3 separate regions of the Homo sapiens genome follow, and regions 1 and 3 are each reported to be linked to region 2. Evidence: microRNA targets listed by miRTarBase, many of them from high-throughput screens and not tested one by one. Region 2 holds a microRNA gene; each other region holds the end of a gene's coding sequence.

What was found. The annotated mature microRNA hsa-miR-488-3p reads UUGAAAGGCUAUUUCUUGGUC and lies in region 2 at 2,191-2,211, shown strand. An mRNA with a match to its seed (bases 2 to 7 or 8) in the 3' UTR can be bound and repressed. Matches are read on the target gene's strand: a 7mer-m8 pairs with bases 2 to 8, a 7mer-A1 pairs with bases 2 to 7 and ends in A, and an 8mer does both.
Region 1: the mRNA of CIAO1 is a reported target of hsa-miR-488-3p. Seed matches in the 3' UTR shown: 7mer-m8 at 2,238-2,244 and 7mer-A1 at 1,537-1,543.
Region 3: the mRNA of RAB6A is a reported target of hsa-miR-488-3p. Seed matches in the 3' UTR shown: 7mer-A1 at 1,876-1,882.

The regions. Positions count from the first base shown.
Region 1 is chr2:96,270,641-96,274,640 of GRCh38, reverse strand. CIAO1 (cytosolic iron-sulfur assembly component 1) reads right to left here. Exons shown (of 7, transcript NM_004804.3): 7 at 468-3,530. The coding sequence ends at 3,290. It overlaps SNRNP200 (small nuclear ribonucleoprotein U5 subunit 200), which reads left to right. Exons shown (of 45, transcript NM_014014.5): 45 at 1-303. Among named protein-coding and RNA genes, the nearest start is that of CIAO1, 6.4 kb to the right of the region's middle.
Region 2 is chr1:177,027,197-177,031,584 of GRCh38, reverse strand. It overlaps MIR488 (microRNA 488), which reads left to right and starts at 2,140; the gene lies at 2,140-2,222. ASTN1 (astrotactin 1) reads left to right here. Exons shown (of 23, transcript NM_004319.3): 4 at 633-779; 5 at 1,844-1,951.
Region 3 is chr11:73,674,596-73,678,595 of GRCh38, forward strand. RAB6A (RAB6A, member RAS oncogene family) reads right to left here. Exons shown (of 8, transcript NM_198896.2): 8 at 1,043-3,367. The coding sequence ends at 3,303. Among named protein-coding and RNA genes, the nearest start is that of PLEKHB1, 30 kb to the left of the region's middle.

The DNA of each region.
Region 1 (4,000 bases), not on the chromosome of region 2:
GTGCTTGTTAATGAGTATGTCTGGAGGACAGACCTGCTCATTAGGTGTGCTGTCCCCTGTAGCCTCGTGAGTCAGCCCAGAGGAGGGTACATGCGACTGTGGCCTGGCCTCAGTGGTACCCACACATCAGCACTACCACAAGAACCAACACTGAGCCTCGGAAGCTAGATCACAGGTTAGGGGTTTCTCTAGATGGGGGTTCTGAAATTTGCAGTGTCTGCTCCTGGGAGGCAGCACCAGAAAGGGCACTGAAATGTACTAGCTGGATGTGACCCAGTCTTAATAAACAGGTTTTCTAATCCAGATCTTCCGACTGTCTTCAAATTCTTACCTTCTGTTCTTTAGATTAAATGCACACAAAATTGAAAGATGATTCTGAAGGGCAGTTTCCTCAGGGTAGCAGTTTTCAAATGATTTGGTCTTAGGACCTCTTTACACTACTAAAAACTAAGAAACTCAGGTTTTTGTTTTTTTTTTTTTCTTTTTAAATAACAAATTTATTTTTCACAGTTCTGGAGGTTGCCCCAAAAAGCTTTTATTATCTAGATTAAGGTTAATGCACTTTTAAATCATAATGTTAACATTTTTTTTCTTAATAGAGACAGAGTTTAGCCATGTTGCCCAGGCTGACCTTGAATTCCTGAGCTCAAGTGATCCGCCCACCTCAGCCTCCCAGAGTGCTGGGATTACAGGCATGAGCCACCATGCCCAGCCCACGTTAACATTTTTTATGAAGAATAACTTCCAAAACAATCCAAGGAGAAGGGTGGCATTTTACAGTCTCTTTAGTATCTTGTTATAATAAACAGTTGAATTCTTACAGCTGCTTCTACATCCAAACTTTTTTGTTGAAGTAAGTTGACTTCACACAGATACGCAGTTGGAAAAGTTTTTAAAATAGCCTTTTCAGCTAATTGTGGCTATTCTTTGATACCACACCAAGACTACAAGTGATTTTTTTTTTTTTTTTTTTTTTTTGAAATGGAGTCTCGCTCTGTCACCCAGGCTGGAGTCCAGTGGCACGATCTCGACTCACTGCAACCTCCACCTCCCGGGTTCAAGCTATTCTCCTGCCTCAGCCTCCCGAGTAGCTGGGACTACAAGGGATCTGCCACCACGCCCGGCTAATTTTTGTAATTTTAGTAGAGACGGACTTTCACCATATTGGCCAGGCTGGTCTTGAACTCCTGACCTTGTGATCCACCCACCTTGGCCTCCCAAAGTGTTGGGATTACAGGCGTGAGCCACCGCGCCCGGCTTACTACAAGTCATAGTTTCTTAAAGGCAATGTAGACTCCGAAAACTTAATGCACTCTTATATTGTTAATACATTAAAATCCACTGGCCTGTCTTACACTTTTGAATCAATCTTTGAGCCATGCATGATTTTGTAACATCACGTACTGGTCACTTGGAAAAATGGTTCATTGAATTCTTCCAAATGAAATGCATTTCATTATACAAATCACATTTGTTAATATCCCCAACAATAAAGCTCATGGTGGAGTACAGATTTTCGGAAATTCCAATTTTTGCTTGAAAGCTTTATCACTGGCAACACTATCAGTTGTTTCCCTTGAGGTGAGAGGCTCATTCCATTAATTTCCAGAAAATATCAGCCAAATATTCAAGTCTAAATACCGTAATCTGCTAGTTCTTTCAATTCTAAAGGGCATGCCTTGAACACAGCCAATTCAGCTTGCAACTCAACTGTGTAACTGCTTTTCCTCAAGGCACCCATACTTCAGTGCACAGCAGAGGGGCTTTATGCATGCTTCCAGTTTTCTCAGAATATTATAAATTCTCAAGGTCAACTTTTTTTTTCTTTTTGAGACAGGGTTTCACTCTTGTTGCCTGGGCTGGAGTGCAATGGTATGATCTCGGCTCACTGCAACCTCCACCTACCGGATTCAAGCGATTCTCTTGCCTCAGCCTCCCGAGTAGCTGGAATTACAGGCATGCACCACCATGCCCAGCTAATTTTGTATTTTTAGAAGAGACGGGGTTTCTCCATGTTGGTCAGGCTGGCCTCGAACTCCCGACCTCAGGTGATCCGCCCGCCTCAGCCTCCCAAAGTGCTGGGATTACAGGCATGAGCCACTGCGCTGGCTAGGTCAACATTTAATAGTTAACCATTGCTATTTGTTCTATCAAGGACATATCAAAACTACTAGAAGTTTGCTGCCACCACCTTGATTCATGCCACAGTGCCAACAGTTGACCTCACAGATCCTCCCTGAAAGGGTCTTGGGACTCCCAGGATCTGCAGGCCGCATTCTTCGAGAACCACTATTCTAGGTACAGCCCCACTGTCCTTCTAAAATCTAAGGTCACAGCTTAAACTTCAGGGAAGGCTGTAGTTTTGGAGGCCATTGTCACATTAGAACCCATTTAGAAGTGACTGTCAAGAGACAACTTGAGTGAGTCTGAAACTGCCTGCTGATGGCAGTGTTTCTCAACTGGTTTAAATCGCCAGTCCCCTAGGAAGCCTTCTTCCTGATCACTCCCTGCCATGAAAATGGAATATCACAGACACACTATATGTGCTGTGGGCCTTAGGAGGGCCACAAACAACTGCTTGTGATTTTTTTTTATCCTTACTGAAGAACCAATTTGCATCCCTGTTGAGAATACAGGGCTTGTGGCCAGTAATAACTCTCCCTTTTAGGATTCCTGTCTTTCCCCATTTTTTTTCTATCCCCAGTTGCCATCACAGCGTAACGGTGCAGGGAGGTATATGAGGGTTGCTAAGGGAAAGCAGAGGTGCCCCTCACTCAAACCTACATTCAGAAAAAAATTTCCTTCATTATTGATTGGATGTCTTAAATGCAAAGACTTACACAGAAACTGGGAAGGGAGGACCTATTTCAGACAAGGATTCACCATGGAATTTTTATGAATATCCTTATAAAATAGGACTTGGGATGCAGATGGATTATTTCTTTAAGTCTTGCAACTTCAGAAAAGCCTGAGACACATACCCCCTCCTACTATATATAGTGATTATAAATAGTATATTTACCTCCAAAAAATTTAACACTGTGCCCTAATGCAAGAAAAATCTGTGGTATAACAATGTACTCATGTTCTGTAGCTCTTTACTGAAGGCCTCATGTCAAAGGCGGGGAAGGAAAGCAATTCTGTGGCTCTGCACTTCTACCCAAGTCTGAAGAGAAGTGAGCCAAGTTAAATGAAGGTCAAGGATGCTCCTCCTGGTCCTCTCAGGGGCTGGTAAAGTCTTATATGACGTTTTCTGGGGAGTCATTACTCTGTCCAAAGTCGAGGTAGCTCAGAGGCCTTCAGGCCGCTGATACTTCCAGAAGGCCACCTCCCCATCATCACTGCAGGAGGCCAGTAGCCCTGGCTCCTTGGGGTTCCAGGCCACACAGTTGACATCCTGGGAATGGGCCTGATGCAAGTGGGCTGTCAGGGAGAAGGTGGGCTGCTGTGGATCCGAGTTGGGATCCTCCTGAAACACGCGGATCGCGTCATCCCCACAAGCTGTGGCCAGAGCCCCTGTCAGCTGACACCTGGAAGGAAAGTGACATCAGTGGGTATACCTGACTAATTAGGCCAGAGAGACCTGTTCCATAGTTCCTGGCCTGTTCTCTTCCCTAACTTCAGGCCTCAGCTAAAAACCTCTTATTAAAATGTTTCCTTAACTAATAAGGAGTCACAAATATCACCCACTTATATCTTCAGATGCTGCAATCTAGTTCTTTCCCCTACTATGATTATCCTAAAAAACGACATGCAATTATGAACTGCACTTTCCTCACTTGGCATAAGCAGTTTCCCATGTCATAAAGTTGTTTTTTTTTTTTTTTTTTTGAGATGGAGTCTTGCTGTGTCGCCCAGGCTGGAGTGCAGTGGCACAATCTTGGCTGACTGCAACCTCCCCCTCCCAGGTTCAAGCGATTCTCCTGCCTCAGCCTCCTGAGTAGCTGGGACTACAGGCATGTGCCACCATGCCCGGCTAATTTTTGTATTTTCAGTAGAG
Region 2 (4,388 bases):
TGAAGAGCCAATTTCTAATGAGATTTAAAGCCTGAAAATTCCTTGAGAATATGGGGGACATATCATCAACATCTCTTCATATTGACCATAACACCTGGTGTAGTGCTAAGCCCACAAAGTAGACATATGGTACTCAGGGGTTATTATCAACTCAAATGCCTTTAGGAGGCCAACAGATAACACAGATATTTGAAGCAGAGAAGAGGTCAGACAATACAGAATGGCGCAGACTGTGATGAAAGAGAAGGGGCATGTTCTGCCTGAATGCACACAAATTCAAATTCTTTTAAAACTCTGTGCTGACCAAAAATAAAGAAATCTGCAGTCTGTATTTAGCCAAAGGGTTACAAGTGCTGACCTTATCAATACAGAATATTATAATACATAATATAATAATAGTTGAATTGGATTTTCAGTTGTAGTTCCCTGACTTCACTGCTTCTCCCATAACTTTGCAGTCCCTCAGAAATAAAAAAGGAGTATTTCAGTTTCTTGCAGCCAGTCTCTCAGTTTGCTGGTGTCTTATTTCAATTCTGTGAGACCTTATCTTCTTGGTTTATGCAGATTTCCTTCTTCTCCCTTTCTTTTGGTCTTTTCTCTTAAAGTTTTTGCCTCGTCTTTTCCTTATACAGGAAGTGACAATGCCAAGCTGTCACTGATGAACAAGTATAAAGATAATATTATAGCCACTAGCCCTGTGGACTCCAACCACCAGCAAGCCACCCTTCTCTCTCACACCTCCAGCAGCCAGAGAAAGCGGATCAACAACAAAGCAAGAGGTATGCATGTCTGACATTAGGGCTCGTGGGTGGATTCCTTCATATTGGTAGAGGCAGGGCCATTAATATCTTCTACCCATTCTCTCATGCGTGGCTGGAGAGGGTATGCCCTGGCACAGCCTTTCTGGAGGCCAGTTAAATGCTACTTACCAAAAAAATGTAAATGTGCAAACCTTTTGACCAAGTAATTTCACCAACAAGAGTCTATTCTTAGGAAATAATTGGACAAGTGTGCAAAGAAGTGTGTAAAAGGCCGTTCATCACAGCATTGTTTAAACAAGTGAAAAATTGGAAATAGCTTAAATGTCCATCAACAGGGAATTGGTTAACTACCTAGCACATCTGTCTGCTGTCCAGCACTTACCATGCAGCCATTTGAAACAATATAGATCTATATTTGTTAATATGGAAAGTTGCCCACCCATCTATTAAATGGGAAAAAAAATGAAGTTATAAAATAGAAGATACAGCATAATGTCATTTTTAAAGAGAGATTAAAAAACCTTTACCTGTTTCTGTGTCAGTAAAAGCCAGAGAGTATACACATGAAATGTTAGCAGAGTTTATCTCTGATTTAAAGGATTTAGAGGGCATTAGAATTGTTCCCTTTACATAGTTTTGTGCATTTCCTTTATTCTATTCTGTCTTTTTTGTATTAAATATATATAATTCTAGAGCCAGAAAAAACACAAAGATGTAATTTCCTATACCTCTTAGATAGTCTCATATTAACAGAATCATAACCTGTAATGAGGGAAATTTCCCTTTCTTCCTATTCCACCCACTTTCCCTGGAGGTCCTCTCTGGCAGATAGGTGCCAGAAATGGCCCTAGTCAGAGGGAAGTGGGTGGGGCAGGGTAGAGCTCCAGTGATTGCTGTCCCAATGGTCTACTTCTCCAACATATCCGTGTATGAGGAAGCCCCAACCCCCTTGGCTATTTCTCCCAGATTATCAGTCAGCTTACTTTCATTTTTGTTGATTTTCCCATTGAACTTGCCCAAAGGTTTGGTGTCATGAAACCAGAACTGAAAACGCTTTCTTGACCATGCTGCTTTCATTACAGCTGGTTCCGCCTTCTTGAACCCTGAAGGGGATTCTGGCACAGAGGCAGAAAACGACCCCCAGCTGACCTTTTACACGGATCCTTCAAGGAGCAGGAGGCGTAGTAGAGGTAGGAATGATAGAGGTGGCAGAAGGTGGTAAAGGATCTGGGAGTGAGGGAGGCGGGGGAAGGCGAAGAGGTGTTGGGTTGGGTTGTGGGCTCTATGGAACAAAACCAGTTTCTGCAAGAAGAATTTTTGGACCACAACTGGTGTTTCCTCCTAAGGAAGAAAGAAGAGCCTAGAGTGGAAAATTTCAGAGAATCATCTCTCCCAGATAATGGCACTCTCAAACAAGTTTCCAAATTGTTTGAAAGGCTATTTCTTGGTCAGATGACTCTCAATTTCTTCTGGAAGACTCAGGAGTCATATTTTGCTGTTCAGACAAACAAAGTTAATAAAGTGTGTTGTATGTGAAAAGATGGATACTATATGTACCCCTGCTTCCTCTACCACATTGGCCTTGGGTTTGAGCTAGGCAAGGATTGGGGGCAGTGTAGTTGAGGAATGATCTATGGCCTGAAAATCTGTGTAATTGTCTTTGACCTTTAAGCCCCTGCCTGGTAGAATCACAGGACCCCGAGCCTCCCAGTTCCTTCCTTTCCCCTGGCAGGGTTAAGGTGGCTAATCCATTCTCCTCCACGTGGACAGAGCTGTCCTTCCACGCAGCCACTGTGTGCCACTTCACTGTCATGATCAGTGGCTTCAACTGTGGCTATTCCGGCCACAGCTCCCACTGCCTCTGACTTCACTTGTATCACCACCACACCAGCGGAGTTCGGAGCACAAGCGCCGGTCAGCTTTACCAGTTATTTGCTGTGTGGTACTGGATAAGAACAACAAGTTCTCTGACCTTCAGTTTACTCACATGTCAAATGAGTTAACAATACCTTGTGCGTAGAACATAGAGCTTTATCAGGATTAAATTATATTAAAATGTGCCTTTTTGGAGATTGCTAAAGCACTATGAAATCCCTATTGTTGCTGTTAGAACTCTCCATCATGCAGCCCCATATTTATACAGTGCCCCATCTTAAAGAATTTTAGGCAGCGTCCCTGTAAGATACAGTAGAGGATATTTGAGTGGCATCTCCTTGTAATACATTCCATAACAATTTCCTCAACCAATAGTCAACCAGTGTCTCCTGAAAGACATATACATTTTTATTCTCTCGTACCTCCACTTGAATTCCCTTCATAACAGGTGTTCTTCCCAGAGATTTGAAGAAGCCCTTTTGATTATAAATTCCAGTTTCTATAGGCTTAACTACTATCAGTATAATAAAAGTTTTTCCATCATTTTTCTCAAGAGATCATTGTGGCTCTGGGTATTCTAATATTGAATGGCCAGGTTCTGTGAGGCGAGAATGTGGATTAGGGTCTCCCAATCTCCCTTGATACTTATTACAAATTTTAGACAGTGGATACCCAACCTAGGCCCAGCTAATCCAGGCCTAATCAAAGCAGGGTGTGTCCTGCTTTAATAAAGTCTTGTTTCAGAAAAATCCATGGTAATGAATTAGTTTCTCGACAGCATGAAACTGTTCCTTTTAAATACCAAGGTCTCCTAATGCATCAACTTTTTACGCTATTAACCAGACTGTAAGCTTCTTAGGGGTGGGGAATGCCTAATTTATTTTTCCAAAGTGCCTAGTGAAGGATTTTTCCTGTAACAGATGCTTGTAAGTGTTTGTTGAATTGGATTGGATATATCCATCAGTGCAGCAAAAACATTTTATAACCCACCTGCTGTGGGTCAGGTTTGTGATAGGTGGTAGAAACATGAAAATATGGCCCAGTGATAAGGCTTAATTTAATAATATAAATAAAGTGAAGAGAGTACTCAGAAGAGAGGACAGTTAATCCTACCTGAAAGCAATGGGAGGCAAAAAAGGAGAAAGTAATTAGAACTAGGTTTTATATATATGTATATATACACATACACACACACACACACACACACACACACACACACACACACACACACACACTGTACTGGGTTTCTCAAAAGAGGAGAAGAAGTCTAGGATAAGGGCATTTCAGTAAAGGAAAATGGCACATAAAAAGCCTTGAAGGGACAAAAGAACATGGTGTTTTAAAGGAAGTAAAAGTCGTTCAATATGGCAGCTGTCATCAAGTTATAAATATATACGCACACGAGATGGTAAGGATGAGGCTGGAAAATGGCTAACAAAGGACCATGCACATGCCATGTGACTGAGTTTCTGCTTGCCTCAGTGGGGTGTAAGGAACCATTGGAGGTTCTGAAACCAGGTAGAGATGCTGGATTATGGGTCGATGATGCAGAAAGACCATAGAGTCAGGAATATCCGTAGCAAGTCATTGAAATCACATGAGAGCAGTGGCAATTGCCTGTAAACAGTGATGATTCTATGTGATAAGAGCTCTAACAGCTCTTATCACACCTTATAGCACCAAGGGCTAGAACACCAAGGAATCAGTGAGAATCTGTTCTTGGAGGTTTCAGGGAAGTGTTTACAGGGAGAT
Region 3 (4,000 bases), not on the chromosome of region 2:
CCACGTCGGCCTCCCAAAGTGCTAGGATTACAGGCATGAAACACTGCACCTGGCTGTGTTCCTCATTTCAACAATTAAAAACTTTTCACACTTAATTTATGATTCCAAATTGTTTCATATCTTATCTCCTTAATATTTATCATGTCATCCTTAAATTATTCGTTCTTTCCCAAAGTATTTCTGCTTTAGATATTTACTTTTACTTTTGAGGCAGTTTTTAGGTATTCAACTATATTGCTGTGTGAGTTCAAATTCCCCTCAGGGTATAGGCTACTAGTCTGGAAGGCACAAGGGACAAGACTGTCAAGGAGAGGAGGGGACAAACTTTGGGGCAAAGAGTTCTAGGAACTATAAGCCCACATGTAATCACTCCCATTCAGTATCAGTATCATCCCCCAAAGCCACAACTTATTTCAGGGCCTTGCCTTTATTTCCATCGGCTTATTAGTGCTTTTGTACTGCCTTAATATTACTCTTGCAGACACCTGCACTAGTATTCTGGCCTGTGGCCTTCATTTTACAGTAAGGGGTTCAGCTATGGTTGTCCCAAGGCAGGGGTTGCCCTTTTCTCTGTAAAGGGCCAGATAGTAAACAGTTTTTTGGGTTTTAGGGCCATAAGGTCTGTGGCAGCTATTAAGCTCTGCCATTATAGTGGGAAAGTATGGCTGAGTTCCAATAAAACTTAATTTTTAAAACTGGTTCCAGGCTGCATTTGGTGGGAGGGCCACAGTTTGCTGGCTCCTGTCCCAAGGCAAAGGTATAGTTAGGAGTGAGGACGCAAAAGCAGAACTTAAGATGCTTTTCTTAATATGTCCTATTACTGCCTCCACCAGGGGATGTATCTTTCAAGTTGCAGCCCCTCTCCCCCACCCCCCAACAATACCCCCATCAAAAAAAGAGTCTTTGACTCCCTAGGAGTTCCTCACATTTGTTGTTGTTATTTTTCTGGATTCTGTCCATGTCTGCTTTAAAGGTCTTCCCAGAGAGGGAGAAGTAAATGCTAATTCACCATCTTGGCAGGAATGGGAAACCAGGTCAATAATTGTTTTCTTTCGTGTTTTATTTATATATTTTTGGCAGCAAAATTGTGTTTATTAAAAAAAAAACCTGGACTATGAACACACTTCAATGCTTTGAAGAACTCCAAGCCAAATAAAAAGACCAATCAATATTAAAAGCAGTATAACTGGTTACTTTCTTAAAAATACATAAAAAGAATCAAATGCAACAGTGTAGGAAGACAATCACACCCATGTCAGAAGTCACAACTTCTTCCAAATAAAGAATATGACCCATCTGCCATATTGAATCAATATTTATTTCAGGACATGCCATGTCAAAATAAAACAAAGAGTCAACCCTTGCCTTTAACAATTATATTGTATTATAAAAGCACTTTACAACTCCATCCCATCTTTAAGTATAAGTTACTGGTATGTGGGCTAATGATTATCTGTAAGCATTTCTCTATTCAGATCCATAATCCAAGTGCTCTCTGAATATTACAAGGTGACAATAAGTGGGAAGTGGAGGAGGAAGAGGAAAGAGAGGGGACTAAGGTTCTCCCAGTTTAAGGTTTTGTTCCAATGAGGGGATGAGGAAGTATGAAGATATTTTTGTTGTCTTTTCATCTTTATACTGTGTTAAGTAATGCTTACAACATAAATTCAGCAGGCTTTTCCTGAGCTGTAACTCAGAAGTTTTCGTCCTGCAAACAATGTATTTACAAATGTGTTTATTAGCTTACACAGCAATCTCACAATAACTAGTAAAGATTAAAAGGGCACACTCCTAGTATATTTGTTTGCAGTGTTTTAAGGGAAATACATATTGCCATGGTGAAGCTCTAAATAGATTCAACGAAACATCTGAAGATTGAAAGTTGTTAAAAAAAAAAAAGGCAAAGAAATAAATATCACCAAAGAAAAAAGATTAATTGTAGCTTAAATATAAAACTAAATCACCAGTTAATTAAACTATACAGATCTAATACAAACCAAAACCAGCCTGAAAGACCCAACCTTAAAAAATGCTAAAAAATAAGGCATAAATCTGCATAATATTGAGTTTTATTTCCATTCTCTCCTTTCCCTCTACTATGTATGCTTTACCTGATCTGCCTCTAGGGGCTTACAAGAAAACGGTTTCCGGTTTCCGTCTTCAATTTGACCTCAAATGTCCTGAGCAAAGTTTTTGTTATTCTGCTGAGGGTTCTTTTGTTGGTAAGCTTTAGACATCATTATTTCTACTAATTCAGTAGTTTTGATCGTAGCGCCAAATTTAAATTCTTCCACTGGTTCTTCTGGAAGGAATTAAAACTTTTACAGTGCCTTGCCTGCACAGTATTATGTTTTTAAAAAAGAAAACCCAAGCAAAATCTATTGCTTAAAGAGGTTTCTTATTTTTTAAACAAACAGAATAACTCTTGACAATTTTAAAACCTTGGGAGAAACAGTTCATTAGAACTTCATTTTCTTACCGTGAAGAATTAAATACTAAAAACCTGTTCTGAAGCACTTGGTTAATTTTCTCTCCCAGAGTCTAATAAAGCACATGTGAAAGAGCCATTTGTTTTAGTCAGAAATACATCTTATGTTCTTCTACTTCTAAGTACTCAGTATGTTCTTTAGGACTCATTTTGAAGATGCACCAGGAGCCTTTTCTCATTCAAGCACTGCCTACCATGATGGCTGAATTTTGACCTCAAAGAAGACCGTAATTTATATCAGTGCTCAAGAATAATTTTGGACATCTTGGTCCGTAGCCTACAGCAAGTGGTATCTGTAAAATTAAAGGATAATTCCAATGGGCTTGGTAGAACTGCTGCTTTGCCATCTCTTGTTTGTTTTGAGGAAGTCGGGGGAGGCTAGGTAAGAATAGGGTAATAGGGAATGGGGGTAAGTGAGAGGTGAGAAAAGCAAGGAGAGATAAAGTAGGCTGTGAACATACCGCTCGTTAACCAAGCCATACTCATACTGTTGAGATTTCCATCATTTTGAAGTACATTATCATAACATTAAAAAAGAAAAAAATGTTAAGAAAATGTATCTAATTTTTAAAGTTATCACTGGAATATGCTGAAATATTTTGGCTTTTTGTAAAATATAAATAATGAAGACACTGACTTTTGTTGTGCTTGTGAAGCTAATAGATCATCTCCACGAGACAGGCAGCAATGATGAATTGCAATACGTTATTACTGAAGGGAAAAGGTTCAAGCCAATATTCACACTGCAGTCAATGAAAGAGTAAGGGGGCCAAAGCAGTGAGCTTCTGAAGAAGGTTGAAGATGACATGGGAGATTAGCAGGAACAGCCTCCTTCACTGACTGGTTGCTCCTGAGGCTTTTCCAGTTTTATGTCAATCACTGAAACAAAAGTTAAGAAGCCATAAATGGGAAAGTACAATTTCAATTCTTCCAAACACTAGCATTTCTGGGATGGCCCTTATATTCCTATCTGTCTTCAGAGCCTACACACTCACTATTTTCTACATAGCCGCCTCACCATATAAGGTGCTCAAATGGAATAAACTTGTTTATATCTACTATATGCAACAAGGGTCAGAATGAGGTACAAGCTCTATTTATGGGTATCTATCCTAAGGAACTTATTCTACAGTGGCAAGAAGTGATATGAAGATGATGTTCCTCATAGAATCATCTATAATATAAATCTGAAAATAGCCTACAAGATAGTTCCAACAGCAGAGGAAACATTTAGTAAATAATGGGACTTCAGGCCGGGTGCCGTGGCTCATGCCTGTAATCCCAACACTTTGGGAGGTTGAGGCAGGCCGAACACCTGAGGTCAGGAGTTCAAGACCAGCCTGGCCAACATGGCGAAACCCCATCTCTACTAAAAATATAAAAATTAGCTGGGCATGGTGGCTCATGCCTGTATTCCCAGCTACTTGGGAGGCTGAGGCAGGAGAATCACTTGAATTCAGGAGGCAGAGGTTGTGGTGAGCTGAGATTGCGCTGCTGCACTCCAGCCTGGGC